Homo sapiens: one gene and its partners. The protein of the gene in region 5 purifies or fractionates together with the protein of the main gene of each other region. This does not show direct contact. Each region holds a gene or a part of one and is shown on either strand. Other genes may lie near its edges.

Region 1 (4,552 bases), on a different chromosome or scaffold from region 5:
TTCAGGGAGGATGGAAGTGTTTTATGTCCTAATTGTGGTAGCCTTTACATGACTATACACTTGTCAAAACTCATTGAATTGTGCACTTAAAACTGGCAAGTTTTACCACATGTGAATTATACCTTATGTAATTTATGTTTATAATATATATATGTAAATTTCAAAACAGGCAGTAGCTGATGAATCTGGAGCTAAATTTCCCATTGTGTAACTGCACTGCGGTAAACCCAGGAGCCTGAATCCCTGAGTCCTTCAACCTTCCCTGCAGGGAGATTTCCTGCAGGCAGCCACTGCAGGCTGATACACCACGTCCAGTGAGAAAGAGGCTGGGAAGTGAATTTTTTCAGGCAAATGCTTCTGTAGCAGTTCAAATAAGAAGCTGATTGCTAGGGTTACCTTGGCTTCCTGCCTCCTTTCCTGAATCTTCAGAGGTCATACTGTGTACTTGGTACAAAACATTGATCTGGAAAACTGCCTAGAGCCAGATTAAATATAACATCCTGGTTTTTAACTTGTATCTCACATGACATACATGTCTTTATCTTCATATCTTGTTGCATTTTGAAGGGCATACCTGTCTCTACACTCAGCCCTGAAGAGATAGGGAAAAATCTTACTAAAATACTAAATATTATAGCTGCCATCTGTCTCAAAAAGTTTGGCAAGGATCCAAAATGAGCATTTCAGTAAGACTAACTACATCAGTCCACTGTGTCCTTCCAGCTCTAGGTCACCTGTCTTCTTACATATTCTCTTTGGTAAAGGTACTTCTCTTCCTGGTATAGCCAGTTAGTCCTTTTGCTTTCTGCCCAAGTCCTCCTGTCTGGGGAAGATCCAGAGGCTTCTGATCCATGTTCATAGCTCAATTGGAAAAGGAACATAAGCTACATAAATGTAGTCTAGCATTGGAAATAATCAGATCAGTCATGCAAATTAATAAGTACATAAGGTCATATCCCAAAAGATAATAGGGCAGTCATGTACAATAAAAGCTGCCAGAAAGAGTGGATTTTAAAGGGAAAGAAAAATGAAAGAGCCAGCCTAACTCTGGGCTCTTATAAAAGTTATTGATGTGATCTGTTGTTAGGTGTGCAATCTCCCCGCACTAGTGTTTGGGAGGTAGCCATTCTCCCAACCTCATAGCAAGATATGGACTACCCTGTTAAGAGCTTTAAAAAAAAATTAAAATTAAATAAAACAAAAGATGACTTTTTTCAAAGCACATTTTAATCATTTATTTTAAAAGGGGGAGTAAAGCATTTAAACTGCCAATCCTATAGACTAGGACTTGAACATCAAAGGAAAAATAGACAAAGACTAGATGATAAAGTCATTCAAAAGCACAGAAGCACATCACATACACCAGCAAGGTTTCCAACTACTGCACTGATTAACTAGATACTCTCAATAGCTTTTCTATAGCTCGTCCTAGAAAAAAAAATTAAATTTTCATTTTCTTACAAGTTCCAGGCTTAAACAAAGGCAAAAATTACATGCAACAACTGATACACTCATAAGTTGCACATATGCTCCAAGGTCTTTATTAGATAACAATAAATGCTAGCACTTTGTCACTGCCATCAGATTTTCTTATAGTCTTAGAGTCATGTAAATAAAAGTTCATAATGAAATTAAAGAAAATTAATTTTTCTAATCTTAGATCAGTTCCATAGAAAACTATTAATTTTTTTAAAGTAGGCAGTAGAAGGGGGTTGGTGGGGGGTGGAATTGGTTAGTAAGTCTGGTTCTAATCTTCTGAGCTGCCTTTGGAAGGAAGTTATGAGGTAGAAGATTCTACTGACTTTTAGTAAGGTGGACAATGAGAGAAAAGAAAAAGCAGGTGCCTCATCTACAGATCCTTCTGGGATTTATTTGCCATGTACAATTTAATGCATAAAAAGGCCTCTCTCCATAAAACTCAGCACTTTACAGATGTAGAATATATAAGCATGCCAAATTTACTTATCTGCCACATACAAAGCATCATTCCAGGTGCTAGTGAGGGGAAAAAAAAGTTGGAGATTTGGTCCCTCGAGGAGCTCCAGATATTAATCTACCTAACTAAGTCCCCAGGTTTCTTCCAGGCATGGAAGAATTAGTGGTGCTACATGGATGAGGACTAGTCATTGGGCAATATTTCCTGTACAAAGAATCCCTAGACGCCATACTGAGTTTTAAGTTCCTTAATTCCTAATTTAAGGCTTCTAGTGAAGCCTCCTCACAGTAGGCTTCACTAGGCCCACAGTGCCCCTAGACCTCTGACAATCCCACCCTAGACAGACTTTATTGCAAAATGCGCCTGAAGAGGCAGATGATTCCCAAGAGAACTCACCAAATCAAGACAAATGTCCTAGATCTCTAGTGTGGTAGAACTATGCACCTAAACATTGCTGCAAAATGAACACACTTTTAGACACCCCTGCAGATATCTAAGTAAGTGGAGAAGACTATTTTTTCAACAAACATTTTCTCTTTCACCCTAACTCCTAAACAGCTTACTGGGGCTTCTGCAAGACAGAAAGATCATAATTCAGAAGGTAACCATCGTTATAGACATAAAGTTTCTGGTCAAAAGGGTTATAGTTAATGCTCTGCACTTTTTCCTGCATCTTATGCATTACAATGTCTAGTTTGCCCTCTTTCCCTGTGTTTGTGTCATAATAGTAAAAAATCTCTTCTGTTCTGGTGTTCATAGTACGGGTGGCATACAGAACCCCACATACCATGAAGGCGTTAGAAGCAGATGGTTTATACTGCTTGGTATACCAAGTGTTTAGCACCTGAAGTGTGGTGTCATTGAGTTTACTAATCACCATGTTACCAGTGCTGGCTTCAGTTGAATAAATAACCCACAATCCATTCTCATCCACAGCAAAGTCAATATCTTGCCAAGCAACATTAGCATATGAAAAGCGGTTATTATAGGCAGCATTAGGGAGAGTTTGAGTCACAGCAATCGTGTTGGTGGTCAGGTTAACTCTGGCAATATTCCCGGTGTTGTACATGTTGACGTACATGTTGTTGTTGTAAACTGCTGTACCACTACCTTGGCCATAGGTGATCCGCAACTCTCGAGCATTTATATACAATAGCAAATCATCCAGTGTGTTGTACAGTCTATAATACTCCAACAGTCTCCCATCTGTATTCAATGGCGCCACCCAATACAGTCCTTTGTTTGGATGCTGGGGAGAGTAATCCCTACCCCAAGCACCATATAGATAAGAAAACCCTCTCCAGTTGAGCTGAACCACAGACGGTTTGCTGATGTTCACCACACCACCATGACCACAGCTCCCTATACAAACAAGAAAATAAAAAGGCATTTTTAGAGAAAAGGAATGACAGGATACAAATAGTTTAATATCCTAAGCACCAAAGGAATCTATAAATATTTTTCCTGTCAAGGTTCAATAACAACAGTGGTTCTGATGGAGAAGAGCCAAACCTCCTCTTAGTTCAGTGCATTCAGTCTCAATGCAAACCCAATGTCAGCTCTACAGAGAACTACATTCTGTTTCCATGGGTGGGCTTTCAATCTGGAAAATAGGAATAATGAAACCAGCAAGAACTATATTTAAAAAGTTTGGAGGCCCAGAGAGAGGAAAGGGAGACTTGGTGAATTTAATATATTTCCTTCTATCAGAAAGCATTTTGCAAATATTATCTTATTTTGTTTTTCTTATAGCAAAATCAAGGAAGCAAGATTATTCCACAATCCTACCCTATTTCTATAAATCCACAAGATTTATAGAAATCTATCCCAGAAAGAATAGTGATGAGGGAGAAGATTTTCCCAGGCAAGGCTTCATGCCCTTCCTCACTCTCCCCTTCCTTGGGACCCCCAATTGCACATCCACGCCAGGTACCAATCCTGCTTTAAGCTATTCTCAGAAGAGGATGTTTTAAATATAGCATTTTATAGATCCAGAAAGATGGTCCTATAATGGTGGGATTTCACCCTTGAGAAGCCATAAAGTTATTTTGGGGCAACATTGCCTGCTCCGTACCCAATGCACAGCCCATCAATAAATCACTTGCTGACCGTCCTGCTGCAGAGTTACATGGTGAGTCCTGCTGTTCATAACCCATATGCTATTGTGCCATAGAATGACATGCAAGTATTTCATCTTTCCATCCAGACACTGTCATTGTCACAATGTGTACAATCAAGTGGGACAAGATTCACTGGTCCACTGAATCTACATTCCCTGTAACACTTGGGTAAATAACTCAGTCTGGGCGATCAACCCTTCACATTGTACTCCCGCTGAAATGCCTGCCATCCCAGGAGTTTATGAGCTATAAAAATAAAATAAAGTTCCTCCAGTATTTTTATAATAACTATCCAAAGAGTTGAACACACATTTTCTGGGATCTTAACACTCAAAAAAACTCATGAGATGGTTTATTGGATAACAAAGAAAACCCAACTTCAAGTATATTTGAGGTCATTTTCCCTCGTCCTGCTGCTCAGAGCAGAGCAGGTGAGACAGGAAAGGAGCAGAACCTGAATTGTTGGATTTGGCCTGAAATACTTGCAGGGACTCAG
Region 2 (3,959 bases), on a different chromosome or scaffold from region 5:
GCTTCCAGAGAGCTTATAATATAGCAGGAAAGATGGAAATATGACAAATGACAAAATGAAATAAAATACTAAATCACATGGCGGTGTCTGTGTTATACAGAGTGGCCACCAGAGATGTTAATGTTGTAAACCCTGGAACCTGTGAATATGTTGTTACACAGCAAAAGAAAACTTAGGTTGCAGATGGAATAAGGTTCTGATCAGATGACCTTAAAGCACATGAGCTCTTAAGTCAGAATGAGAAAGACAGAAGAGTGAGTCAGACAGATGTGACATAAGAAAAAACAGATACACCTTCATTGGCTTAGAAGAGGTAGAAATGGGGTCAAAAAAGCCAAAAAAAAAACCAAAAAAAAAAAAAACAAAAAAAAAACATGGGTGAATGCTAGAAGCACAGAGCAGCAAGGAAACAGTTTCTTCCGTACAGCCTCCGGAAAAGAACACGGCCCTGCTGATACCTTGATCTTAGCCCACTAAGACTCATTTCAGAATTCTAACCTACAGAACTGCGAGAATACACTTGTGCCGTTGTTTTACGACACTGTTTGTGGTATAATAGTTTGTTATGGAAGGCAGGGGAAACGAAGCTGACGTCACAGAATTAGTTTCACCTGTGAAAAGGCTTCACTGTACTGGTATTTCACTGAGCCCTGAAAGGTTTGGGTGCAGTGGAGGAAAACAGTTGTCTGGAGTTAAATTCTCGCTATTTCAAATATGGTCCTTTCTGAACAGCACTGGTGGAAAATGCCCAATTTTTGGAAATGCGAAATGTCACCTTGGAAATGCAAAATGTCACCTCAGGCTGCACAACAGACCTACTGAGTCAGCATCAGCATTTTAACAAGATCCTCAAATAATTTGCATTCATATTAAAGTTTGAGAAGCACTAGGTTAAATTTAATAAAAACTTTTTAAAGGTGCAGAAATCTTTGATTCTTCTTTTTTGACACACAAATGGTTGGAAAAAAGTATTTAAACACACCAGGTTGCTATTTGTTACCACTGCCAATAGGAAAAATAAAAAAAATCTGCTCTTAATGAAGAAGGCCTTTCACCCTTTAGTAAAATCCATCTGCCCCTACGTACAAAGGATTTTCCTTCTTTGAAAACTCCCATGAGTTGAAAGATTATAAATGTCAAGATTTTATTACCTTAAATAAATATTAGAATCCCTGGAAGAATACTCATAGAGCCATCTTGTGGAGGACAAAATAATTTCAATCACAATACATTTTCTTTAATTACTTTAATATAAAAGACAGCAGTTTCACATTTCACATATTTGAAAAACATTTCAAAACCCTCTAACAAGTATTTAATGAAAATAAATTTATCGAAGAGAAACAATGACCACAAAATTAATACTACCAAATCATTACTGAGACTTTTTGCATTACAATATTTGGAGAGTAGGTGAAGAAAATATAGAACAGAACATGAACATTTTAAAATGATATTCCACCCAAGCTTTATCTTTTTGCTAAATCTTGTGGACACTAGAATATATATTCAAGATGTTGGTAAAGATATTCAGCAAGCCATACTTCAAAGATGTTAAAACAGCCCTCCACCAATAATATGGCATTGCAAACCCTTCTATCCCATCCCTTTTCAGTTAAAAGAGAGAATATTAACAGAGATTTAGTAATAGTGACCAAAATAAGAAATCAGTATAGTCAAGAAAGATATGTAATTATTCAACATCATTTGGTACGGATAGATCAATGCAACTCACTAAGTGGACAACATTGTGAGGGGAGTGGGTAACATGATTCAGAGTCCTGTGGGTAAATTCATATGCAATAATCTTATTCCAATCAATCTGTAAAGTAAAAGCACTACATCCACATTAACATTATAACATCTTACAGTAATATAAAAGCCAAATCATTGTTGGTACGTCATTTTCTTTAAAGTGAACAATTTAAGAAAACTTCACAAGAGTCTGCACTTTGGAAAGATACGATCAGAGTACACAGTAGAGACAAAACAGGCATCTTCATTGTAATTTTTTTTAATAAATAAAAGCACATTAACAAAAAAGGAAGGTAAGCAGCACCGGAAGCCTTTGACGTTTGTAACTAAATGCTGGTACTCAAATGGTCTAGCTGGTTAAGTTTCACTAGGAGGCGCAAAAAAGGAGCCGTTTTTGACTTAACATTTTAATTCTAGTAGAGATAAGAAGAGCTTGTGTGGGCTTACAGTCCTTCACCTGACTGTCCTTCACCAGTGAGTAGCATACCAGTTCTTCAAATGTCCTATACTTTGGAAAGCAGACCCGACTCTGGAGCACTCGCCTTAATTAGATTCTGAATTTCCTTGAATTTTGGATGGTCCTTATCAGCTACCAGCTGAAGCAGAACAGCCTCACTCGTGGTCACTATGATCCCGGTTCGAGCGAGACGCTTGAACAAAAAGATAAAGGCAAATCAAGAAATAAGCATGAGAATGAACACTATTTCAGAAGAGTAACACTATGCTGGGATGCAATAATTAGTGTCCTCTACTGAAACCGTGGTTCCCAGCCATACCATCAAGTTCAGTGATGGGGATGGATTTCAAGACCAGGCATACCACAAAGTCAATATGATTATTCTTAATATTAGTAAAATGGAGTAGAACGAGTAAAAGGGAACAGGTAGCCAAAGTTATGACATATATGTGCCCAGAACAGGAAAGTCATCAAGGCAAATGACTGTAAAACATGAGATGAGAGAGAGAAAAGGAATGGTTGTTACTACGTGCCCATCACTGAACATCTGGACATTTAGTTGCTGCTATTTCCTGAACACTCCTGGCAGGTTTGTGCTTCATGTCTTACTCATTCATTGACTCAAATGAGGGCTGCTTGTGACTTCTAAATTTATTAAACTTTTATTTCTATTTCTACTACTGAGATTTTTTAAAAGGTGCCTCTGTCCACTTTTCCCCCTCTGTAGTTTAACTGATAATACATGAGATCGTGATGCATATTAATACTTATGCCTGGCACCCCTGGCATTTTGTAGCTCTTCATGTTTTAAAAATCGAGGGGAGCGTAATATTTTAAAGCTCCATTAGCTGTACTACAGATATAATTGTAGCTGCTAGAACATTACATTAGTAATTTACTATCAAATTTCATATAAATTGTTTAATTGGATTAAAACTACTATAAGAATTAAAATGATGGTTCTTAATTTCTTTTTACTGCACCCAAACATCTGACCTATAGCATATGAGTCCTTCCTATAATTAACAGTTCCCTTGTCTAGAAATGACTGGTGCTAAAAGAGCTCTCTCTGTGTCAGGAGACTCCCTGGATGATAAGAGAACCACCACTACTGCTGCCATCATGAACATTTTAATACCACTAAACAAGAGTGTAAAATTCAAGGTTGTGTAAAGTTTCACTGACAGGTCAAAGAATATCCTTGCCAAACTGCCCCAGTGGAATCATAATACTAAGGACAGAAAGCTCAAGGAGGAAAAGAGAGACAGAAAGGAGAAGGCAAAGGGGAAAGAAGGGAAGGAAGAGAGCAAAGAACAGAAAGTCGGGGGTAAAGGGTAGAGAGAGGAAAGGAGGAAAATAGAAGAATTCTATAGCACAGATTCATTCTCTGGATTTATGTGTTATCAGAAATCCCAGGGAAAAAAAAGACACAAACTGTTATCACAAAAAGCATATATGTAAAAAGCATGAAAGAGGAAGTGGTTGGAAACAATTCCTAGGTAAGTCAGAGGCAAAAACCCAGGAAGCCCTTGCATAGCCAAAATATCCTTGCAGAGTGTAAGTCAGTCTTCCTTCAATGGCTGTACATCAGCAGACTGAACCTTTCCACTGGCAGACTCTTTATTTTTATCCGTAATGAAGTATAAGGGAGTATAAGCCATAACCTACTTGTCAGAAAGCAAGCTTGGACCTTAATGACCAGTACAGAAAAGGGTGCAGAGCAGCTAACCAGAACTTTGCAGCAATT
Region 3 (4,679 bases), on a different chromosome or scaffold from region 5:
CACAATATCATTGCTTAAAAGATTCACCAGATAATCATTTAATGATATACAAGAATGTGTCTGCACTTGGCTTTTCTATTCACTATTTAATTATAGCCCAAACACTGTGAAGTTAGACATTAACTTCGAAATTTCTGTCTGATTTCCAACATTAGAAAAGATAGCCTCAAAGATTATACTTTTATGGCCCTATAGGACATTAACCAGTTTTTATGTTTTTATTTTTTTAATTTTTGAGATGGAGTCTCGCTCTGTCGCCCAGGCTGGAGTACAGTGGCACGAACTCAGCTCCCTGCAACCTCCGCCTCCTGGGTTCGAGTGATACTCCTGCCTCAGCCTCCTGAGTAGCTGGGATTATAGGCACGCACCACCACACTTGGCTCATTTTTGTATTTTTAGTAGAGATGGGGTTTCATCATGTTATCATGTTGCCCAGGTTGGTCTCGAACTTCCGACCTCAGGTGACCCGCCCACCTTGGTCTCCCAAAGTGCTGGGATTACAGGTGTGAGCCACCGTGCCCGGCGGAGTTTTGTATCTATTAGCAAATATATTTCAGCAGTCCATTGACTATATACGTTTTTCTTTTTTCTTTCTTTTTTTGAGACAGAGTCTCACTCTGTCGCCCAGGCTGGAGTGCAGTGGCGTGATCTCGGTTCACTGCAACCTCTGCCTCCCGGGTTCAAGTAATTCTCCTGCCTCAGCCTCCCGAGTAGCTGGGACTACAGGCGCATGCTACCATGCTGGGCTAATTTTTTGTATCTTAGTAGAGACCGGGTTTCACCATGTTGCCCAGGCTGGTCTCGAACTCCTGAGCTCAGGCAATCCGCCTGCCTCGGCCTCCCAAAGTGCTGGGATTATAGGCGTGAGCCACTGCGCCTGGCCAAATGTTTTTTTGAGCCAGCCTTACCATCTTACTGGTTCCCTCATTAATGAGTGAGTTGAATAAAATCTTGGGTATGTGTTAATTCTATATTTGTATGAAAGTCAAGTTTTTTAAAGTTTTCTAAATTATACTTTAAGAATATACTAAATTACACAGCTAATAATTTCAACAATTTCCTCACAGCAGCAAGAGTAATCTTCTTGCACCCGTTAAGAAATTGAATTGGTGTGGGATGGGTCTAGGAAAGAAGTTTAAAATAGGGATTAGTTTGTAAGCGATTGAAATTATCCTAACTAGTTTCAAAGTTCATGTTCCTGGGGAGGGCATGGAGGAGATAGAACATTGAGTAACATTTTCGATGCTTTATAGCCACTCCCTAATTCCATTTTTCACAAAAACCTGTGGAATTTCGTAGTTATTTCTCCATTTTATAGCTGAGGAATTTAAGGCTCAGAGATGTTAAATAACATCTTCAGAGTGGTGGACCCCACATTTGAACCCAAAACATCCCCCTTCCTGTCTTCATTCTGGAGCTTCTTTTACCAGGTGAATGGTGTGACAGCAGACTGGCACACTCCACTGTTTAATGCTTGTGTCAGCGGCAGCTGGGATTGTGTGAATTTGCTTCTGCAGCACGGAGCCAGCGTTCAACCTGAGAGTGATCTGGCATCCCCCATCCATGAAGCTGCTAGGAGAGGTAAATCTGTTGAGAATTTTTTTTTCTACCCACTCCTTCAAGGGACATCTTACTGCTGAAAGAAAGAAAGAAAAGGAGATATATTTTAGAGCAGTAGTTCTCAAAATGGAGTCCCAGGACTGGAAGCATCAGCATGACCTGGCCTGCAAATGCAGATTCTTCGGCCTCACTCCAGCCCCATTGAATCAGTAACTGGGGATGGGGCTCAGCCCTCTGTATTTTGTTTAATAAGCCCTCCAGCTGCTTTCTGGTACACAGTAAGTTTGAGTGCCTCCCTTTTAGAGCATTTTGAATGTTTTTCACTGCTGTATTACTGAAACAGGGCTTGGCACATAGTAGACTATCCATCAATATTTGTGGAATCCGTTGTTATACCCGTGACCTTATAGAAATCAAGTTATTTCATAAAACAAATTATATTCTTCTATTTCAGGGCCTTAAAGAACATTGTCTCAGTGACACTTAAGTTTGCCAAATGAAATAAGCTTTCAATTTTTGAAAGTATTTGATGTTGCATACAGTTTGGGATAATTCTTTTCATTAAAGCCATAATTTTTCTGATAGTCTTAGCTCATAAAATCACAAGTTTTTATTTTCTCCAATATTTAGCATCATCGTAATGACCATACCTTGCCAGAGGGCTTTCTGTTTCTCCAGTGGCTTTCATAGAATGGCTTCCCATTTGACTGGACCAACCCACTCATAATGATCTCCCAAAGCATTAATATTATTTATTGAGAACATCTTAACTCATCATATTCGCTGCATACATAGAACTAAAATACAGCAAGAGAAACGTAGAGGAGCAATGTCAAAAATATGACATCCTGGACCAAGGAAGTGTGATTCAGCTTTCACCTAGTTTTTCAGATTGGGCCCTGCTCATGTTGGATTTGGCAGTTTCTTCTAAGCATTGCCTATACCCGCTGTGGCCTGTTCCTCCCGGGCCTGCCTTTGGAGAGGTTGTAAGTTTCCTTCCCTGTCCCGTGGCCCACACTGTGCCCTTTATTCTTCAGTTCCACCTTCAGGTCCTGTTCCTCCATATCTCTCCCAAGCTCTCACTTCAATTTCTGTACTTAGACAAACTACAAAGCCACAGACAATTGAAAAAGGTGGATAGTTGCTGGTTGGTTACCGTGGCTAGTAAACTCAAATGGAGTTTCACCCGTAGTTGCAGATTGCATCCTATGGTCAAACCATTAACTGATAGCAGTGGTTAAAATCACTCCTGATTTGGCCGGGCCTGGTCTCACGCCTGTAATCCCAGCATTTTGGGAGGCTGAGGCGGGCGGACCACGAGGTCAGGAGATTGAGACCATCCTGGCTAACACGGTGAAACCCCATCTCTACTAAAAATACAAAAAAGTTAGCAGGGTGTGGTGGCGGGCGCCTGTAGTACCAGCTACTCGGAGGCTGAGGCAGGAGAATGGCGTGAACCCAGGAGGCGGAGCTTGCAGTAAGCCGAGATTGCGCCACTGCACTCCAGCCTGGGGGACAGAGCGAGACTCCGTTTCTAAAATAAAATAAAATGAAATAAAATAAAATCACTCCTGATTCTAATTGAAGGAAATAGCTTTTTGGTCCCCTGGATAAGCTGCTGCCAAATTTAATGCAAAATGGGGATGGCAATGTCTTTCTAGCTAAGGGAACTTGTATTGTAACTGTTTTTCTTCCTGCTTTGGGCTGCAGGCCACGTGGAGTGTGTCAACTCTCTTATAGCTTATGGGGGCAACATTGACCATAAGATCAGCCACCTGGGCACTCCACTCTATTTGGCTTGTGAAAACCAACAGAGAGCCTGTGTCAAGAAGCTTCTGGAGTCAGGTAAAGCAAAAAGCAAACCAAAACAAGAAAAGAAAACGAAAAGTAAATTAAATGTATTTTAAACATCTTACTGCTGTAGGAGAGAAATTAGTGTGGGCAATGGAGTTGGACAAGGTCAGGGTTCATATTGACTGTGTTCCCTTGGGGAATTATTTCACACTGTTTGAACTGTAGTTCTCTCATTTGTAACAAGGATGAGGAGGAGGAGGAGGAGGAGGAGGATGATGATGATGATGATGCCTCTTCTCAGGGTGGTCCTCAATGATTATTAGTTTCTCCTCCCTTTCCTCTGTCTCCCTCCATTTGGCCAGTCACATTATTAAGCCCTGCATAACTTGCAAAGCTGTTGGATTAGTGTTGAATCTTCCTATTTGGGACCTTAACCAGTTCTCTTTGATTAGATATTGAACTTGCCCCATTGCAAATATTATATTTTCCTTGAAAAGGCCTATGTACCCTTATTTCTTTTCACCTCCCTGCTGTTGTCCAGCCCCCTTCTCAACACCTGGAACACCATTTCATCACCTCTTTAATTATCTGAGTCCTATTTATTCTTTAAGGCTTCAGTAATCTGTTTCCCAATGAATGTTGTTGCAGTCCTTATTGCCTCCTACTCATCTGGCAGGCATTGCTATGAATTAAGAGATGCAATCTCTGTCTCTCCCCCACTGCCCACCCCACCTCTGCCACTCTGGGCAGATTTTAAGCCTCTAGCCTGGAAAGGGCCATGTTTGATATCCCTCACAAAGTCAGGAACAATACAAGACCAGATCAGTTAACATTTGTTGAGTGGACATAGATTTTCATTTTACCAGAGGGATGGCAGCTCAGGCAAAGCCACATGTTCCCACATGTCACAGTGAAAGCTAGGCTCTGGGCTGGGGTGGGGATTTGTTAAGAGTGTAAGAGTGGAATTGGGTGGGGACAGTCCTAGAAATCCACCTTACTCCTGAAAGGGAGAACTTTGCCACCTTCCCTGTGATCTTGGGATTGGCCAGTCCAATCCAGGGGATACCCCCATGAGTTGGTTGGTTGCTTTTCAAAGTCCAAATCACCAGTCCCAAGTGTCCAGTTTTACACCCTGTGGCAGCTGCACACCAGGTGAGTTTGGCTGCTTGGTGTAGGCTGGATTTCACCATCTAGTCTCTCCGTCAGGCTGTACTGGCTAATACTTAGGTTCCATTAATAATAATGTGGAGCTTTTATGTCACTAGGATTTTTCTTATATGCATCATGCCTATCTATGTACAGTGCTGAAAGGCAAATTTTTAACT
Region 4 (4,679 bases), on a different chromosome or scaffold from region 5:
ACACCTCCCTGCAAGCTGAAGGAGCCGGCTCCGGCCTTGGCCAGTACAGAAAGGGGCTCCCACAGTGCAACGGTGGGCTGAAGGGCTCCTCAAGCGCGGCCAGAGTGGGCGCCAAGGCCGAGGAGGCGCCGAGAACGAGCGAGGGCACACACTGTCACCTCTCACCAGCACTTTGGGAGGCTGAGGCAGAAGGATTGCTTGAGCCCAGAAGTTGGAGGCCAGCTTGGGCAACATAGTGAGACCCCCATCTCTACAAAAAATTAATTTTAAAAAATTAGCTGGGTGTGGTGGTGCACGCCTGTAGTCCTAGCTACTTGGGAAGCTGAGGTGAAGGATGACTTGAGCCCAGGAGGTTGAGACTGCAGTGAGCTGTGATTGTGCTGCTGTACTCCAGCCTGGGTGACAGAGTGAGACCCCATTTCAGAAAAAAATAAACCAAAGACTAAAAGAACAAATAGAAAAGGCACAAACAATATTAAGAAGGAAAATAGGGACATAACTAAAGAAACAGCAGAGATTTGAAAACTTAGAGGATATGGCCAATTTCCTAGAAAAACTTAATAGCAAAACTGATGCAAAAAGAAATAAGCTTTGATAGTCTTACAATCACTAAGGAAACTGAATCAGTGAGTATTAACCTTTACTGCTTCTGGAACTATAAACCTGAAATGTTTTTAGAGAGCAGTCTGGAAATGTGTATTAATTTCCTAAAACTCTGACCCAACAATATCGTCTTGGGGATTACATAAAAGAATATAAATGGAAAAGAAATTACAAAGATATGTATAGCTGTGCTATTAATATTAGTCAAACAAATGTAAGCAACCTGAATGTCTAACATTTAGGCAATGGCTGAACAAACCATATTATGTGATAGAACCATTAAATATAATACATCAACTCAGAAAGTTTAAAAGGAAAAAATGAGCAGATTTGAGTATATCAAAAGTTTAAACTTCTGTGTCATGAAATATACCACAAATCACGTTCGAGGAGACAAGTGACAGAGAACTGAAGGAATTGCCGCTAGTGTGTGGAGGCTTCCCGGGTCCCCAGAAGGGTGGGGTTCCACCACCTGGGCCTCAGCAGGAAGTAGAAGACAGAAATCTCCCTAGAAACCCTATGGGTACTGAATGGGGTCCAGGAGCCGCAGAGATGAGTGCCTTGTTTCCAGGAAGGTTAGAGAGAAGGCCCTGCCTACAGGGTGCCTGGGAGGTCAGGAAGCAGCAGCTGAAGGAGGGTCTGGGTGAATGGGCAGAGAGAGGGCTGCCTCTCCCAGTTCTTTGTATCTAGAGTGCTGCTGGTTTGAAGAAGGGGGCTGAGGTCAGCTGAGGGTTCCAGTCTCTAAGGTGGAAGGAGGGGTGCCTAATGGCTGAGAGAGCCAGTTGACCAGGAGAATGCCAGAAGTTCTGGCTCCCTGGCCTGGGTGCCACAGAGAATACCATGGAAAGCACCAACAGCTGCCACATGACAAAGACCAGAGGGCAAGCATCCGTAGGGAAGGCAAGTTAGATATAAGTTTGTACAATAAGGATAAATATTCATTTCTTTAATATTTATTGAACACCTGCCATATGTGAGGCACTCTCTTATCACTAAGCTGATCTCTTAAGGTCGAATTACTTTTTCTTTTTCCCCCTAAAGCTTGCAAATATGTAAGTAGGAAAAGATACAAATGTTAACGCAAGAAAAACACAGAATTGCTATGGAATAGGTGGTACGGCCCAAAGTTGGGGGGTATGGGCCCTGACCTCAGGCTGCCTGTGTTCAAATCTGGGCTCCGCAGCCCACTAGCTGTGCGGCTTTTCTGTGCTTCAGGTTCTCCATCTGTAATGCGGGGCTGACGAGAGCACCTCTGGCAGGGCTGTGGTGAGGGTTTAATTAATGAGACAAGATGTGTAAAGTGCAGTGCCTGATCTACAATAAGGCCTTTTTCCTTCCAAGAGTTCATCTGCACGGCCCCACAGTGGCTTCACACACCCCCTTCCCACCTGGCTCCTCTCAAATTGCTTTCTCCACCCTATCTGTTTACTGCTAGGACCCAGGCCGACAGGAGGCACTGGAGTCATTTAAATCCCTCAGAGCTGTCAAAACTCATCATCCAGCCTTCACGTGTTCTTACATACTAGCAGGTGCCTTTTTTTTTTTTTTTTTTTTTTTGAGACAGAGTCTCGCTCTGTCACCAGGCTGGAGTGCAGTGGCGTGATCTCGGCTCACTGCAACCTCCGTCTCCCAGGTTCAACCAATTCTCCTGCCTCAGCCTCCCAAGTAGCTGGGACTACAGGTGCACGCCACCACACCCAGCTAATTTTTGTATTTTTAGTAGAGACGGGGTTTCACCATGTTGGCCAGGATGGTCTCGATCTCTTGACCTCGTGATCCGCCTGCCTCAGCCTCCCAAAGTGCTGGGATTATAGGTGTGAGCCACCACACCCGGCCCTCAGATGCCTTTTAAAGGAGGATGTCTGTGAACTCCAAAGGATGACTCTGGGGGGAGCCGTTCAGGCATAAAGGGGAAGCACCCCTCAGATCCACTCATCCTCTCACTCATTAGGCCACTGTGGTAGCTTTAAAAACCTGTCTACACATTCTTTGACATTCCTTCCCACAAAACTTGGAGTCTAACTCGCCTCCCCTTGTATATGATCTGGACTTAGTGACTGGCTTCTAATGAGTTGCTGAAATGGTGCTTACATGACTTCCAAGTCCAAGTAATAAAAGTGACCTAGCTTATGCCTGGTTCTGGTTCTCCCCTTCACTTGACACACAGATGTGCACCTCTGGAACCTTGAGCCACCATGGAAGGAGCCTGGTCTCCCCGAAACCACCCTACGGAAGAGAGAGTGTGGAGAACCCACCTAGAAACAGATGCCTGAGAAGCCTCCAGCTCAAATCTTCCCAGCCCAACAACCAGACAGGGGAGAGAGCCAAGCTCCGGATAATTCTAACCCCCAGCCTCTGAGCTGCCCCAGCCAACACTGAATGCAGTAGAAATGTGCTTGTCTCCACAGCCTGCACTCATGTGCAAAGTCAACATCAACGTTATCTTTTTGTGTGTGTGTGTGTGTGACAGGGTCTCACATGTTGCCCAGGCTGATTGGAAACCCCCAGGCTCAAGCAATCCTCCTGCCTCGGCTTTCCAAAGTGCTGGGATTATAGGCATGAGCTACCATGCTGGGCCCATTATCCTTTTAAGCCATTACATTTTGAGGTGGTTTGTTACACTGCCATAGTAATTGGAAAACCAACCATGTAAGGGCTGGCTTCATGGGTGTGCGTCCTGTGAAGTCACAAGTTCCCCGCTCTCAGAGGGGCCCTGTGCTTAGGCTAATGCTCTGTTGTCACTATCTTGAAACTCTCAATCATTTTTGCACCGAGCCCTGCAAATTATGCACCTGGTCCTGAGTCCTACCCCGTGAATGACTATCACTCTCCTCTTCTTGGTCCTATGTACCCCTCATATATTTAACTCTTCAGTATGTTTAATGGACAGAAAACAGAGCTTTGGAAACAGCCAGACCTACTTTTAAACCCAAGCTCCACCACTGAGTGTCCCTGTGACCTTGGGTAAATTAATTTTTCTCACTAAACTTCAGTTACCTTATCCACATACTGGAGATAATATTTACCTCACAGGGTTACAGTGAACATTAAATGAATAATGAATTACTTCTGGCACAAACTAATATACAAGCCTTTTAGTGTTATCCCTGTCTCTGGTATTTTCTCCACTTAAAGAACCCTCCACACCCACATCAGATAAATCATCCTTTGCTAGAATTCCACTGCTCTAGAACCTTCAGTGGCTCCCTATTTCGATTACAGTCCAGAATCTTCACCTGGGCATTCAAGGCCTTCTACAATCAGATATCAAGTTACTGTTGACTCATCTTCCAGTGCTGTATTATGATAGCACACTGCTTCAAACCAAGGAGTTATTGGAGTCTCCTAAAATACTTTCCACTTTCACTTTTCAGTGCTTTTGCCCAACCTGTTCCATCCTCAATCTGGAATGTCCTGGGCCCTCCTGACAACCTTAGCATTCGGTTATAGCCCACCTCAAAAATGCAAGTGATTGGGCTGAGTACAATGGCTCACGCCTGTAATCCCAGTACTTCGCAGGCCAAGGCAAAAGGATTGCTTGAAGCCAGGAGTTCGAGACCAGCCTGGGCAGCAAAATGAGACCCCCCCCATCTCTAAAAAAAACAAACAAAAATTGTTTTTAATTAGACAGCATGGTGGCTCAAATCTATGGTCCCAGCTACTTGAGAGGCTGATGCAGGAGGATCACTTCAGCCCAGGAGTTGAAGGCTGCAGTGAGCTATAATTACACCACTGCACTCCAGCCTGGATGACAGCAAGATGCCACCAAAAAAAAAAAAAAAAACAAAGGCCGGGCATGGTGGCTTACACCTGTAATCCCAGCACTTTAGGAGGCCAAGGTGGAAGGATCACCTGAGGTCAGGAGTTTGAGACCAGCCTGGCCAACATGGTGAAACCCCATCTCTACTAAAAATATAAAAATTAGCCAGGCACAGTGGCACGTGCCTGTAATCCCAGCTACTTCGGAGGCTGAGACACGAGAATTGCTTGAACCCAGGAGGCAGAGGTTGCAATGAGCCAAGATTGTGCCATTGCACTCCAGCTGGGGTCACAGAGCAAGACTGTCTCAAAAAAAG
Region 5 (4,186 bases):
AGGAGGGGCCAGGGCAGGGACCCAGGGCTGGGACCAGATGTAGGGTTTTTCTTTCCGCCTCAGAAGGAGCTGGGAGGGAGAGTCTGGGGAGGGTGGGGGATGGGATGCGGCGGGGCCACGTGCATCGGTTCGCTCAGGGCCACCGGGCCGAAGGCCCCCCCGCGTTGGACAGGCCGGGACGGTTCCTTTGGCTCCAATCACTGCATCCCGCCAGGCTTCGCTCCTCTGCGGTTTCCGGCCTCGGGTCCCAGGCCTGTCCCCGAGGCTCCCCGCCTGACCTCCGTTTCTGTTTCTCCGTCTCCCTGCCATCTCCACTGGGGTCTCGCCCACTCCCACTCGGGTCTCTGCAGGAAGCCGTGCCCTCCTCCCACCCTCTTTGATCTCCCGTTTCAAAGCCGCTCTCCAAGGGAGGGGAGGTCGCTCCTTCCGCCCGTTTTACAGCTCAGGATGGTGACACCTGAGACCCTGCTCCGCCTTCTCCCCCGGCACCCATCCTCCCGCCTATCTAGGTGGTGGCGCAGCTCGCCAGGGCTCCGCGCCTCTGTCCCCGCCTCCCTCCCTTCCCCCTACTGAGACCCCCTCGGGGTCTCGGGAGTGAAGCGACAGAGAAAGCGTTTTAATAAAGACCTTGCGTCAAGTGATTGGCTGTGACCTCTGCCCTCCCAGCCTCGCGCCCTGGGCTCCTGCTTAACCCTTCAATGTCCGCCCAGCGCATTAAGGGGAGCGAGTCGCCTGGCGACTACTTCCAGAGTCCCCAGGCATTACGTGAGCCCGAAGCAGGGTGGAGGGGTGGGGGGACCGTGCCGCCCCCGCCCAGCCTCTCCGAGTTGTTCCAGCAGGGGGCGCCGTTGCCTCACTTAGATCCCTAACCCCCGGAACCCCGCAGCTCCCAAGCCCCTCTCTGAGTACGGAGTGGTCCCACTGGATCCAGTTCAGGGTTCAATGGAGCTAGGGCCAGCTACGGCTCAAGATCTGGGGTCCGCCTGCGGGTGGGGTCGCCAGGTGTCCGGCACCAAGGAGTTGAATGCACCGAGTCAGGTTGGGGATGGGTGGGGAACAGGCGAGACGTGAGGAACTCGGGTGGGGGACAGCCATACACGAGCCCTGAGCATCTGCGCCCGCAGCTAGCTCCCCCCGCCTCTGCGGAGAGCGCGATTCAAGTGCTGGCTTTGCGTCCGCTTCCCCATCCACTTACTAGCGCAGGAGAAGGCTATCTCGGTCCCCAGAGAAGCCTGGACCCACACGCGGGCTAGATCCAGAGGTTGGTGGCGGGGGCGCAGGGCCCCCCAGGTGGGGGGGGGCGGAGCGGGAGGCGGGGCCACTTCAATCCTGGGCAGGGGCGGTTCCGTACAGGGTATAAAAGCTGTCCGCGCGGGAGCCCAGGCCAGCTTTGGGGTTGTCCCTGGACTTGTCTTGGTTCCAGAACCTGACGACCCGGCGACGGCGACGTCTCTTTTGACTAAAAGACAGTGTCCAGTGCTCCAGCCTAGGAGTCTACGGGGACCGCCTCCCGCGCCGCCACCATGCCCAACTTCTCTGGCAACTGGAAAATCATCCGATCGGAAAACTTCGAGGAATTGCTCAAAGTGCTGGGTAAGGAAATGTTCGAGGGCCCAGGTGGGGCAAGGGGGGGCTCTGGAGTCCTCGAAGTTGGGGATGAGAAAGACAGCGGGACCACAATCAGGGCGTGAGACACTGGGTGCCTGCATCCCCGAAAAACGTGCCAGGCGTCCGGGTCCCGGGGCTCTGGGCACGACGCCTAAATCCCGCTTTCTCCTGCGGGGGCCCACCGGTGCCAACACTGCGGTGACTCACGGCCTGTGAATCACGTAGAAACCAGAAGCGCGAGGTTGGCCTCTGGGGGAAGGGGAGGCTGGCCTCAGCGGCCGGACTCGGCGGGCCGAGGCACCTGGCTCTCTGCAGTTCAGAAGCTGCGGGCTGGTGGAGCCACGAACCCTGCATCCAGACTGGGAGCCCGGTTCCCTACCCTGCCCAGCCGCTCGGAGACATTCCAATCTCCTTCCCGGTGCCCCCCTCGGTAACCCAATCCCCAGGGCAGGCTCATTACCCCTCGGCGCCCAGCTCTGCCTGCGAGGTGATCTGCTGCCCCAGCGCCCCCTGAGCCCCACTTTCCTCCCCCTCTGCACTTTCCACTCTGCTCTCCCCACCCCCCATCTGTGAGACAAGTATTTTCATACAGCGAGCAGCTCCAGAGTTCTAAAATCGCTAGGGATAATTATCACTTTCTTGGATTTCAACAAATGGTTTCGTGTGAAACCCCAATCCCACATTTCCAAAAATCTAGGTTCCCACCTACCTCCCCCGACCATAGATCGGCTGCAGCCCAATTGGGTGTGTTGGTCAAAGGTGGGGAAAACTAAGTCAATCCAGACTGCCTTTCCCACTTTTCCAGCCCACCTTCTGTGTGCCCTCTGGGCCAACTGGGCTAGACATCTGGGGCAGGGGAGAGTGCCAGGACCTGGTGACTGGGAGAGGACTCTGGGGGAGAGATGGACGTTAGTTAAGGACCCCAGCCACTGGGAGCGTAAGGGCAGGCCTGCTGCCTTCAATTCCTGCACTCAACAGAGAGACGGTAGTTCGGCTGGGTTGGGCGAGAGGGGAGGGAGGGAAGGCACCCCTCTCCCTGGACTATAGGAGTGAGTCTGGATCTAAGACAGGTCTGGAATGCTGCAGAGAGAGCAGGGATCTCCATCAGTCCTTGCCGTTAGTTCTTCCTGCGATCTAACCACAATACTTCTTGGAGTCATATCAGTCTTTCTTGCTCTGTCCTTGCTAAACTTAAAGACAAAAAGAAATTTTCTCTTTGGAAAGCCTAGATGCCACTCCCTCCTCATCTTCTCTGGATTCTGGCCCCTGTCCTCAGTGGATGAGGTGGTGGTCTGGTACACCCCCAGGCCCCAGCTGAAGAGTAAGATTCAAGGCCCCAATCCTGCTGTCTGTCTTCAGTCTGTTTGTCCTCCCTGCAGGGTCTCTCTGAGCCACGTGCCCTCCTCAGGCCCTGCAGGGGGCAGATTAAAAACAGATCCATTAGACAAACACAGTCCTGAGCCAGCTAAGGCCGGCTAAGCTGGGCCCTCAGCTCCACAGGCACCAGGGGCTCGCTGAAAGGATGTCTCCTCTGAACCCAGCCTTGCCTCTGCAGGAACTTCGGTCCTGGCACACCCCTCTTAGCTCTAGTCAAGGGTCCATCTCAATAAGACTTGGGGACCTGTCATTTCTTCCTAGACACAAGAGTTCAGCAGCCAACAATGGGGGTCCTGGGCTCCCCAGGGGCAAGGCTTCCTCTCTCCCTCTCTCTTCTGTTTGCAGTAGGGTAGGTATGCTTTGGCACTGAGGGGAAAGAGGATTTGTTTCTCTAGGAACCCAGGTCTGGAGGAGGTCCAGGGAGTTGGCCAGATCAGGGGCAGGGAAATCCTGCTACCTGGCAGAGGGCCCTTTCACCCCCGCCTAGTGCATCCCTGGCTCTACTCCAGGACAGGGCGGCAGATCAGGCCAGGTGAGGTGGGTGTGTGGAGCTTAGACCTGGAGCCCATCCAGAGAGGCCCCCTGCTCTGCACGTCTTCCTTTCAGAGGGGTGCTGTCTCCTATCTCCCCCACTTCGGTTAATAACTGGGGAGCAGAGAGAAGGGGTCCAATCTGGGCTGGGATATGGAGGTGCACAGAGAGTCTGAATCCACGAGGCTGAATGAGATAGCCGGACCCTGTGAGGGGAGTGGGGGGTCCTGAAGAAGGGGATACATCACACAGAGCGGGGAGGGCAGTCTCCTTTTCTATTCCTTCTTCTCACAGCAGAGGGGGTTCCCTTGAGGGGACAGGGGTATGGGAGTCTTCCAGAAGGGCAGATGAGTACGGTGCCTAATGCAGAGAGCTTTGAGCCCCAGCTTTTTGCTTTCCTTTTTTTTTTTTTTTTTTTTTTTAGTGGTAGGGTCTCACTGTGTTGCCCAATCTAGTCTCAAACTTCTGGGCTTAAGCAGTCCTGCTGCCTCGGCCTCCCAAAGTGCTGGGATTACAGGCATGAGCCATGGCACCTGACCCTTTGCCTTCCTTTTATCAGTAAAAATAATACCAACAATCATAGCTATTGTTTCCTGAAAACTTAAGCATATGCCTGGCACTGTGTGTGCTAAGTCCTAAACACATACCATCCCAATTGGCTTTTTTTTTT
Region 6 (4,679 bases), on a different chromosome or scaffold from region 5:
TTCTTTATCCTCCTTTCTTTCCTCTCTCTGTCTTTCTTTTTTTCTTTCGTTTCCCCCTCCCTCCCTCCCTCCCTCCCTTCCTTCCTTCCTTCCTTCCTCTCTCTCTCTCTCTTTCTTTCTCTTTCTTACAGGGTCTCATGGTTGCTCAAGCTGGAGTGCAGTGGTACAATCTTGGCTCACTGTAACTTCAGCCTCCTGGGCTCACGTGATCCTCCCACCTCATCCTCCTAAGTAGCTGGGACTACAGGTGTGTGCCACCATGCCCAGCTAATTTTTTTTGTATTTTGTTTTCTCTGTCTTCTTTTGTAGAGACAGGGTTTCACCACGTTGCCCAAGCTGGTCTCAAACTTCTGAGCTCATGCGATCCACCTATGTCAGCCTTCCAAAGTGTCTTTGCTTTTTTTTTTTTTCTTTTCCTCTCTCTCTCTCTCTCTCTCTCTCTCTCTCTTTCAGATGGGGTCTTGCAATGTTGCCCAGTCTGTAACCTCTCTCTTTAGCCACTGTGTTAGATACTTTGGGCGGACAGTTGTATGCCCATATCAAATTCAGAATAGAGGTATCAGAAGTCATTTTACGCAGTTACTTCTTTTACAAATGGGAAGACCAAAAACAAGATCTCACTGGAGAAAGAGCTAACTGGCTCTTTCCTTTGGTCTTTTTCTTCTTTTATTCATTTAACCAACAACTACTGAGTATCTACCATGTGCTGAACATTGTTACAGGTGCTATAAGGGAAGATGCCAGGAAAACAGAATGTTATCATCTAATGATATTTTTAGGGGGCAAGGAGTGCCAGGGCAGTATGGGAACACAGGAAAGGACCACTTAGGTTAGTTTATGGGGCATGGGTGTATGTGATAACATGTTTGGGGAGGTCAAGCTGACTTTGAGGTGGTCACAGATCACCCAACCGGACGTTCAGTCACTACTTTATTAATTCATGGAATAAACATTGTCGAAAACCTTTGCCAGGTGGTACAGATTTGGAGATTAATATGATAGGGATAATCAGGAGGATGGTGAGGAGTATTACACAAATTATTGTACAATGCAGTAAATGCTCTGATCATTTGGGGAGGATATTCCAGGTAGTGGGTACCATAAGAGTAAACGAGGAGGGGTCAAGAACAGTATGATGACTGTGAGTACAAATATTACAAATAGTTGTGGCTGGAGCAAAGACTGTCAAGCAGGACACAAAAAAGGTGTTCTGGCAGGGGCCAGATCTCAGAAGAACTCAGAGGCTGTTGTGGGAGTTGGATTTTGTAACCATTAGTCCAGTGATGGTGATTTGATAGCAAGCCAGTTCATCTACTCTAAATTAGTTCAACTGACATTTGTGACCTAAACATAGGATTTTGCAAGTATGTCTGGGTCTTGAATGGAGGGTCTCTGCAGCAGAAAAGAGATCTATAAAATGGCACGAGCAACCTGTGCTCTTGGCCTGTTCTCCAGGCACAAAGTCCACAGCAAGGAAAGAAAGGCTGCCAAGAAGGGACTCCAGCTTGACTTGGAGAGCCAAGTCCCCCATGATACACCTATCATCCTTCAAGGCTTGGCTCAACTTCACCACCTCCTCCTCCTGAGTGATCCCTCCTTTCTAGGAACCCCTAAAGTCAGATAACTCTAGAGCTGGAAGGGGTCTCATGTGTCCATCAGTTCATCTCCTCCTGATACAGATGAGCAAACTGTCCATTGGGTAGTTGGGCACACAGGTCTGGAGCTCAGCAGGGGACTGGCATAGAGGCGTAAATTTGGGAGTCATTAGCATAAGGGGAGACTAGAGCTGTGAATGAGGTTGGGATTGTCCAGAGAGCATATATAGGGCACTCTACACCAATCTAACTGTGTTAATTAATCTGCTGCCTAAAGGCATTCATTCATCAAGTTCTTAACCTGCCCTTGATGATGCAGGCACCACTGAGCTTCTACCTACGTTGCCAGCCACACTCACAGCACCTGCTCTGCAGCTTTCTGCTGTTTCCTTTGATGCCATGGTCATTTCCACGCCAGGGCCTCTGTGTCTGCTGCTCCCTCTCCCTGGAGCATTCTCCTCCTGCCTTTGCCTGGTGTCTCCCTATTCATCTAACAGGCTCCAACCTAAAAGTTACTTCCTCAGAGAGGATCCTGACTTAAAATAGGTTCCCTGTGATATTCTTACCCACGCTGTACCTTCATAACACAATACTTATTGTAATTACAATTAAATGATGTGTTAAACTCCCACCTCCACCCACAAGCCCCACAGGGTAAGGACTGTTTCTCTTGTTCACCGCTGTATCTCTCTGTACCTAGATGTACCACGCCTTGCATATTGTAGGCACTCTACAAATATTTGTGAGAAAGGAGATATGCAGAGTAAAACCTAGTTTTACTCTAATGACAAGGAATACAAGAGCCATAATAGATGGGCAGAGAGATGAGGACCTCGTCTAATAGGATCTCCTGGAGAAAAGCTGGGCCACAATGTATTAAACCAGTTCTAGTGCAGGGATCACTTGTTTTCATAGCATCTGTATCCATAACCACTCATTTGAACCACGGGACCACTGTGAAAATTCAGGCTTAAGAGATGGATTTGTAAAACTATTCTAGTTCTCCAGGGAGCTCTATTTAAATGTATTTAACCAGAATTCTCTACTGCTGTAGAGAATAAGGCAGCTAAGTTAATACAGTCTTGATTCTTAAAATTTAACATCTTTAGTGCATTTGCTTGTGACATGGAACACAATAGTAGCCCTCCTTCACCCCATCTCCATTAGTCTATGCTCCCAATCAGTTCCTAGATGGAGATTTTGGCCTGTGGCTACAAAAACCAATTTTCAACATTCAGTGGGAACCTTGGTCAAGTTCAAGTCCCAGACAAAGGTTTAACAAGAATGCCTCTGGCTATGGGATTTGTAAGTCCTTTGAAAGGTCAGTTTTTTTCTTGCCACTTCATGTAGTGGGTATACATGCTAATGTTGGAAACCTGCTTTCTCATTACAAGAAAATACTGATCATAACAATTAACCTAACAGAGTACTTTCTATTTGTCTGGTGTTATTTTAAATGCTTTACGTGGATTCATTCATTCAATTTCTCCAATAACCCTGTGAAGAAGTTAGGGCTTTAATCTTCATTTTCAGATGAAACTGGGGAACAAGAGGTTAAGTAACATGCCCAAACTGCAGCGGGTGAATAGTGGAGCCAGGACTCAAAGCCAGGCTATCAGGTCCTAACCTGTGTGCACAGGCCGGACACAAATCTGATTAAGGATGTCAGTTACTAATATCAGTTCTGCTGTGAGCATCCAAAGGCCCACCCAATCCAACACAGAGAGCTGTCTACCCTCCTCCCTCCCTGAGCAATTAAGAAGGCACCTGATAAGGTCTGCGGCAGCACTGGCCTCCCTGCCAAGTACTTGGAATCAGTCCCCAACATCTGGTGAGCCTGAAGCCCATGCTATGTGGGGAATATGGTATGCCATCATTTGCCCAGGAGAGTGGACAATAGTTTCTGACCCAGGCTGTTTCCAGGATAAAATATAATTTCAGGGAGAGGTTCTCTTCAAAAATAATACCTTTATGTTTGTATATTTAAAAAAAAAAAGGTTTACAAGTATCTATGCATAATTAATTAATTTCACATTGGCATTGTTATTCTCATCTTAGAGTTGAGGAATTCAAGGGCTCACGGGATGTTAAGTAATTTACCCAAACTTTACTGTAAAACTACAGTAAAGCTAACCATTACCATCTCCAACCAAGTACTAACATTGAACAGTTTTATAATTGGTTATCTCATTTGAACTTCAAAACAATCTATTAATATATGAACTATTATTTTCTTCCACAATTAGCTTCAGAGGGGCTAAGTTGGCCTGTGACCACACAGCTAGAAAGAATGAAGCTGAGATGAGCACTGATATAATGCTATTACTATATTTGTAGGGTATGTATACTACTTTACAAAATGTTTTCATGGTTTTAAAGAATTTAATACTTATAGTAACTCTGGAAATAGATGGAAAAGATATTTTTATACTCATTTTATAGCTGTAGAAACAGGTTCATTTGGGTTAAATGATTTGCTTTAGCCTGGTACCAATATCCCATATGGCCCCATATTCCCATCAAACACTGAGAGAAGATGCTTATTAGGGAGTTCTCCTTATCCCAGAGGCCCCAAATTAACGGCAAGTGACACTGTATCAATAAGAGTCAAACAGGAAACAGAAACTACTAGAGTATTTAGAGCAGAAGCACTTCGATGCAAGGGATTGGTTGCACAGATAACAGAGGGGCTGAGATGCCAGCAGGGGACAGAGAGGCAACCTAGAGGTTAGTAAGCACCCTAGGAGACACAGAGGGAGAATTACCTGTTACCTAAGTTCAGATACCTAGGTTACTGGGTAGAAGCTAGAATCATGGTGGCCTGTGTAGCGGAAGCCAAAGCCACAGAGAAGCTCCTAGTAGTATGGATCTGATGGGGTGGAGAAGGAGGAGAAATACTCTGGTTTCTCCCTTTTTATCTCCCAGTAGAGACTCCCACTGAGCAAACGTAGCTGGGCGCCGGCTGACATCTGGCCTGGGAAACAGGCCGAATGGGTCAGCTTCCACTCCACAGGAAGACAGCAGAGCAGGGAATGGGTGAGGAAGGAATCTGAGGGCACAGGCCACGAACCAGCCCAGACCCCT
Region 7 (4,679 bases), on a different chromosome or scaffold from region 5:
AGCAACTTTCAAGAGTAGTGATTCTCAAACTTTTTTTTTTCTTTCTTTTTTTTTTTTTTTGAGACAGGGTCTCGCTCTGTCGCCCAGGCTGGAGTGCAGTGGCGCAATCCCGGCTCACTGCAACCTTTCACCTCCCAGGTTCAAGCAATTCTCACCCCTCAGCCTCCTGAGTAGCTGGGACTGCAGGTGCACACTACCATGCCCAGCTAATTTCTGTATTTTTAGTAGAGATGGGTTTTCACCATGTTGGTCAGGCTGGTCTTGAACTCCTGGCCTCAAGTGATCTGCCCGCCTTGGCCTCCCAAAGTGCTGGGATTACGGTGTGAGCCGCCGTGCTCAGTCTGATTATCAAACTTGAACCTGTATAAGATTCCCCTGGCAGATTCCTGGGCCCAACCCAGAGATGCTGACTTTGGAAAGTCTGAGCTAGGGCTCAGGAATTTACTTTTTTTTTTTTTTTTTTTTTTTTTTTTGAGACGAGTCTTGCTCTGTTGCCCAGGCTGGAGTGCAGTGGCGCGATCTCGGCTCACTGCAACCTCCGCCTCCCGGGTTCAAGCAATTCTCTGCCTCAGCCTCCCAAGTGGCTGGGATTACAGGCGCCCACCACCATGCCTCGCTAATTTTTTTTGTATTTTTAGTAGAGACGGGGTTTCACCATCTTGGCCAGGCTAGTCTTGAACTCCTGACCTTGTGATCCACCCCCCACCTTGGCCTCCCAAAGTGCTGGGATTACAGGCGTGAGCCACCGCGCCCGGCATAGGAATCCACATTTTTAGCAAACTCCTGAAGTGATTCCGCTACAGATGATTCACAGATCACTTTTTTTTTTTGAGACAATATCTCACTCTGTCATCCAGGCTGGAGTGCAGTGGTGCGATCACAGCTTACTGCAGGCTCAACCTCCTGGGCTCAAGCAATGCTTAACTTAGCCTCCTGATCAGCTAGCTGGGACCTCAGGTGATTGCCACCATGCCCAGCTAATTAAAAAAAAATTTTTTTTGGCCAGGCGCGGTGGCTCACCCATGTAATCCCAGCATTTTGGGAGGCTGAGGTGGGCGGAGTTCGAGACCAGTCTGACCAATATGGTGAAACCCTGTCTCTATTAAAAATACAAAAATTAGCTGTGCATGGTGGTGGGCACATGTAGTCCCAACTACTTGGGAGGCTGAGACAGGAGAATTGCTTGAACCCAGGAGGCAAAGGTTGCAGTGAGCTAAGATCATGCCACTGCACTCCAGCCAGGGTGACAGAGTGAGATTCTGCCTGGAAAAAAAAAATTTTTTTTTGTAGAGACAGGGTTTTGATATATTGCCCACGCTGGTCTTGAACTCCTGGGCTCAAGGGATCCTCCTGCCTCAGCCTAACAAAGTGCTAGAATTATAGCGATGAGCCATCACACCTGGCCCATAGAACACTTTTGAGAAAATCATTCAAGGGAGAAGACAAGAAGTGGTTTGAGATTCAAAACTTACCCAAGGTTATTACCTGCAAATAACTTTCAATGCGTGTGTGTGTGTGTATGTGTGTGTGTGTATGAAATTTAAACTGAAAATGACAATTACTTTAGAGATAATTCTGTTTCATCAATCTCTATCTCTAAAACATGCATGCACATGCTTCACATTTCATCAAACCTACATCCTAAAATAACTTTATTGGTCCATCTGGCAAGGTCCCTGATATTTAGGTTATAGGTTGGGGTCTAAACTATATGTGATTTTGTTTACAAAAACTATAGGAAAGGGTGTATATGTACTTAAATGATAGGCCCCACCTTTTCCTCATTAAATCCACATTTTAGCTACTTAAAACACATGGGCTTTCAAAGAGAACTGTATGGATCAAGAGGCAGATGACTACATAGGACCCCCTCCACCTCCAAGCTCATTTCACATGAGTGATAATCCAGAAATCATCAGGGTATGGAAGGGTGGTGGGTTGTTTCCAGAAGTCTGGAGAGTTCTCAACTCAATTTCAAAAAAAGGGACATAAACATGAGAACTGCTACCTTTGGAAGGCCACCTGTGGTCATTTAGGACACAGGCCAAGGACTCTGCAATGATAACTTTTTAAAAAACTTTTTTTTTTTTTTTTTTTTGAGAGGGAGTCTCACTCTGTCACCCAGGCTGGAGTGCAGTGACACAATCTCGGCTCAGTGCAACCTCTGCAGTGGGTTCAAGTGATTCTCCTGCCTCAGCCTCCAGAGTAGCTGGGACTGTACAGGCACGTGCCACCACACCTGGCTAATTTTTTGTGTTTTTAGTAGAGACAGGGTTTCACTGTGTTAGCCAGGATGGTCTTGATCTCCTGACTGCAAGTGATCTGCCCACCTCAGCCTCCCAAAGGGCTGGGATTACAGGCGCGAGCCACCGCACCCAGCCCTTGGCATGTGCATTTTTTCCTGTCCTTTCAGATTTGTCAAAGTTACCCCTGAATCAATTAAGTAGGTATTGAAAAATGTAAATAAAAATGAGAAGTGACTTGTTCCTCTGGGTTCGTTTTCACATGGCCTGGGAAAAAACCTGAAGAGCCTTTGGGCATGGTGCTAAGTTCCACTTGTCTGTATCTCATATATTCAATTTGATTAAAGCTAAAAAGCTTTAATTAGAAAACTGTTTAGGCTGGGCATGGAGGCTCACGCCTGTAATCCCAGCACTTTGGGAGGCTGAGGTGGGTGGATCATCTGAGGTCAAGAGTTCAAGACCAGCCTGGTCAACATGGTGAAACCCTGTCTCTACTAAAAATACAAAAAAATTAGCCGGGCGTGGTGGCGCACGCCTGTAATCCCAGCTACTTGGGAGGCTGAGGCAGGAGAATCACTTGAACCTGGGAGGTTGAAGTTGCAGTGAGCTGAAATTGTGCCATTGCACTCCAGCCTGGGTGACAAGAGTGAAACTCCGTTTTGGAGGGGGGAAAAAAAAACTGTTTAAAGAACTCTCAACTAATTTCAGACAACTGGTATTTTTGCCTGCTTGCTAGAATAACTGTCTTGTTTGAACTGTAAAGGTTAACAAACAAAACAAAACAAAAACCTCCCTCACTCTCACACATTTACAAGGTTGATTAATGAATACCCAGTTATTTGGGAACTATCTCAACAGAAGAATTAGTATTTAAAAAATATACTAGGCTGGGCGTGGTGGCTCACGCCTGTAATCCCAGCACCTTGTGAGGCTGAGGCGGGAAGATCACCTGAGGTCGGGAGTTCAAGACCAGCCTGACCAATGTGGTGAAACCCTCTCTCTACTAAAAATACAAAATTAGCCAGGCGTGGTGGTGCATGCTAATTCCAGCTACTCGGGAGGCTGAGGCAGGAGAATTGCTTGAACCTGGGAGGCGGAGGTTGGGGTGAGCCGAGATCATGCCATTGCACTCTAGCCTGGGCAACAAGAGCAAAAACTCCGTCTCAAAAAAAAAAAAGTACATACATATATATATATAAGAACTTTGATATAAAAAAGAATTATTTACCTGACCCGTCTCTTCAAATCTTTTTCTGTCTGCACTGTCGATTACATATATCTATAAAGGAAAAGAAGAAGGTTATTTCAGTGAGCAGAGATGGAAAAGACAGGGCAATTTCTGCAAAAGGAGCAGGTGATCCCCAATCAGCATATTCCAATTAGCACAACATACAGAAATTGACTGGTGAGTCTCATCTCATTTATGAAGGCCAAACAAACAAATACACAAATTAATTAAATAGGGATGCCCAGAAAATACCTTCAGCAATGCTCCAAAGTCTAGGATTTAGGAAAACCAAGTGGGATAAAATAGCTACATTTAATGGGCACTTGATGTTGTCACTAAACATTACTAGGTCTACTCTATTAACCCTCATTACAACTCTACAATATAGATTTCACTATTTTCCTTTTTTTTTTTTTTTTTTTGAGACAGAGTCTTGCTCTGCTCTGTCACCCAGGCTGGAGTGCAGTGGCATGATTTCGGCTCTGGGTTCACCCCATTCTCCTGCCTCAGCCTCCCCAGCAGCTGGGACTACAGGCACACGCCACCATGCCCAGCTAATTTTTTTGTAGTTTTAGTAGAGACGGCGTTTCACCATGTCGGCCAGGCTGGTCTCGAACTCCTGACCTCAAGTGATCCACCTGCCTCAGCCTCCTAAAGTGCTGGGATTACAAGCATGAGCTACTGTGGCTGGCCTACTTTGTTTAAATTATGTTAAGTTTAAACACAAAGCTGATATTAATAATAATACAGTAAATGATTAGTAGTAACATGAATATATCTTGAAAAGACATTTATATCTGTCAAAAGGCTGTTATTATTTCTCGGCCTAAAGAGAAATGGAAGATACCCTATCCCCTCCCTTCCATCACACTTCAAGTTTTATTTCTTAGACAAACCCTCAAATTAATAAAGCTCATGTCAGATGTTCTCAATGTCGTCTTCCCTAAGAATAACTCTGGTACTTCTAGGAGTTACTCTTAGTCTTTCAAACCTCTTTTTTTTTTTTTTTTTTGAGATGGGGTCTTGCTATGTTACCCAGGCTGGTCTCAGACTCCTGGGCTCAAGGGATCCTCCCACCTCAGCCTCCTGAGTAGTTGAGATTACAGGCATGCACCACCAGACACAGTTTAGAGAACCATTTAATTTAATACTCCAAAGCAAGGGTAGGCAAACTTTTTCTGTAAGAGGTCAGCAGTCAATATTTTAGC

Evidence for each region.
Region 1: the proteins of CRABP2 (region 5) and OLFM4 purify together in Homo sapiens (co-immunoprecipitation; one large-scale study listed by IntAct). This does not show direct contact.
Region 2: the proteins of CRABP2 (region 5) and ISOC1 fractionate together in Homo sapiens (co-fractionation; one large-scale study listed by BioGRID). This does not show direct contact.
Region 3: the proteins of CRABP2 (region 5) and ASB9 purify together in Homo sapiens (co-immunoprecipitation; one large-scale study listed by IntAct). This does not show direct contact.
Region 4: the proteins of CRABP2 (region 5) and CGREF1 purify together in Homo sapiens (co-immunoprecipitation; one large-scale study listed by IntAct). This does not show direct contact.
Region 6: the proteins of CRABP2 (region 5) and HEBP1 fractionate together in Homo sapiens (co-fractionation; one large-scale study listed by BioGRID). This does not show direct contact.
Region 7: the proteins of CRABP2 (region 5) and ARL3 fractionate together in Homo sapiens (co-fractionation; one large-scale study listed by BioGRID). This does not show direct contact.

Annotation. Positions count from the first base shown.
Region 1 is NC_000013.11:53,048,715-53,053,266, reverse strand, and holds the end of OLFM4 (olfactomedin-4 precursor), read right to left. Parts: intron 3,299-4,552; coding exon 2,496-3,298; 3' UTR 1,210-2,495; downstream 1-1,209. UniProt on the Homo sapiens protein: May promote proliferation of pancreatic cancer cells by favoring the transition from the S to G2/M phase. In myeloid leukemic cell lines, inhibits cell growth and induces cell differentiation and apoptosis.
Region 2 is NC_000005.10:129,111,301-129,115,259, reverse strand, and holds the end of ISOC1 (isochorismatase domain-containing protein 1), read right to left. Parts: intron 2,406-3,959; coding exon 2,259-2,405; 3' UTR 1,232-2,258; downstream 1-1,231.
Region 3 is NC_000023.11:15,249,156-15,253,834, reverse strand, and holds part of ASB9 (ankyrin repeat and SOCS box protein 9), read left to right. Parts: intron 1-1,430; coding exon 1,431-1,581; intron 1,582-3,270; coding exon 3,271-3,405; intron 3,406-4,679. UniProt on the Homo sapiens protein: Substrate-recognition component of a cullin-5-RING E3 ubiquitin-protein ligase complex (ECS complex, also named CRL5 complex), which mediates the ubiquitination and subsequent proteasomal degradation of target proteins.
Region 4 is NC_000002.12:27,111,854-27,116,532, forward strand, and holds part of CGREF1 (cell growth regulator with EF hand domain protein 1 isoform a precursor), read right to left. Parts: exon of another isoform or gene 2,771-4,679; intron 1-2,770. UniProt on the Homo sapiens protein: Mediates cell-cell adhesion in a calcium-dependent manner. Able to inhibit growth in several cell lines.
Region 5 is NC_000001.11:156,702,784-156,706,969, reverse strand, and holds the start of CRABP2 (cellular retinoic acid-binding protein 2), read left to right. Parts: upstream 1-1,386; 5' UTR 1,387-1,523; coding exon 1,524-1,593; intron 1,594-4,186. UniProt on the Homo sapiens protein: Transports retinoic acid to the nucleus. Regulates the access of retinoic acid to the nuclear retinoic acid receptors.
Region 6 is NC_000012.12:12,993,071-12,997,749, forward strand, and holds part of HEBP1 (heme-binding protein 1), read right to left. Parts: intron 1-4,679.
Region 7 is NC_000010.11:102,686,422-102,691,100, forward strand, and holds part of ARL3 (ADP-ribosylation factor-like protein 3), read right to left. Parts: intron 3,523-4,679; coding exon 3,472-3,522; intron 1-3,471. UniProt on the Homo sapiens protein: Small GTP-binding protein which cycles between an inactive GDP-bound and an active GTP-bound form, and the rate of cycling is regulated by guanine nucleotide exchange factors (GEF) and GTPase-activating proteins (GAP).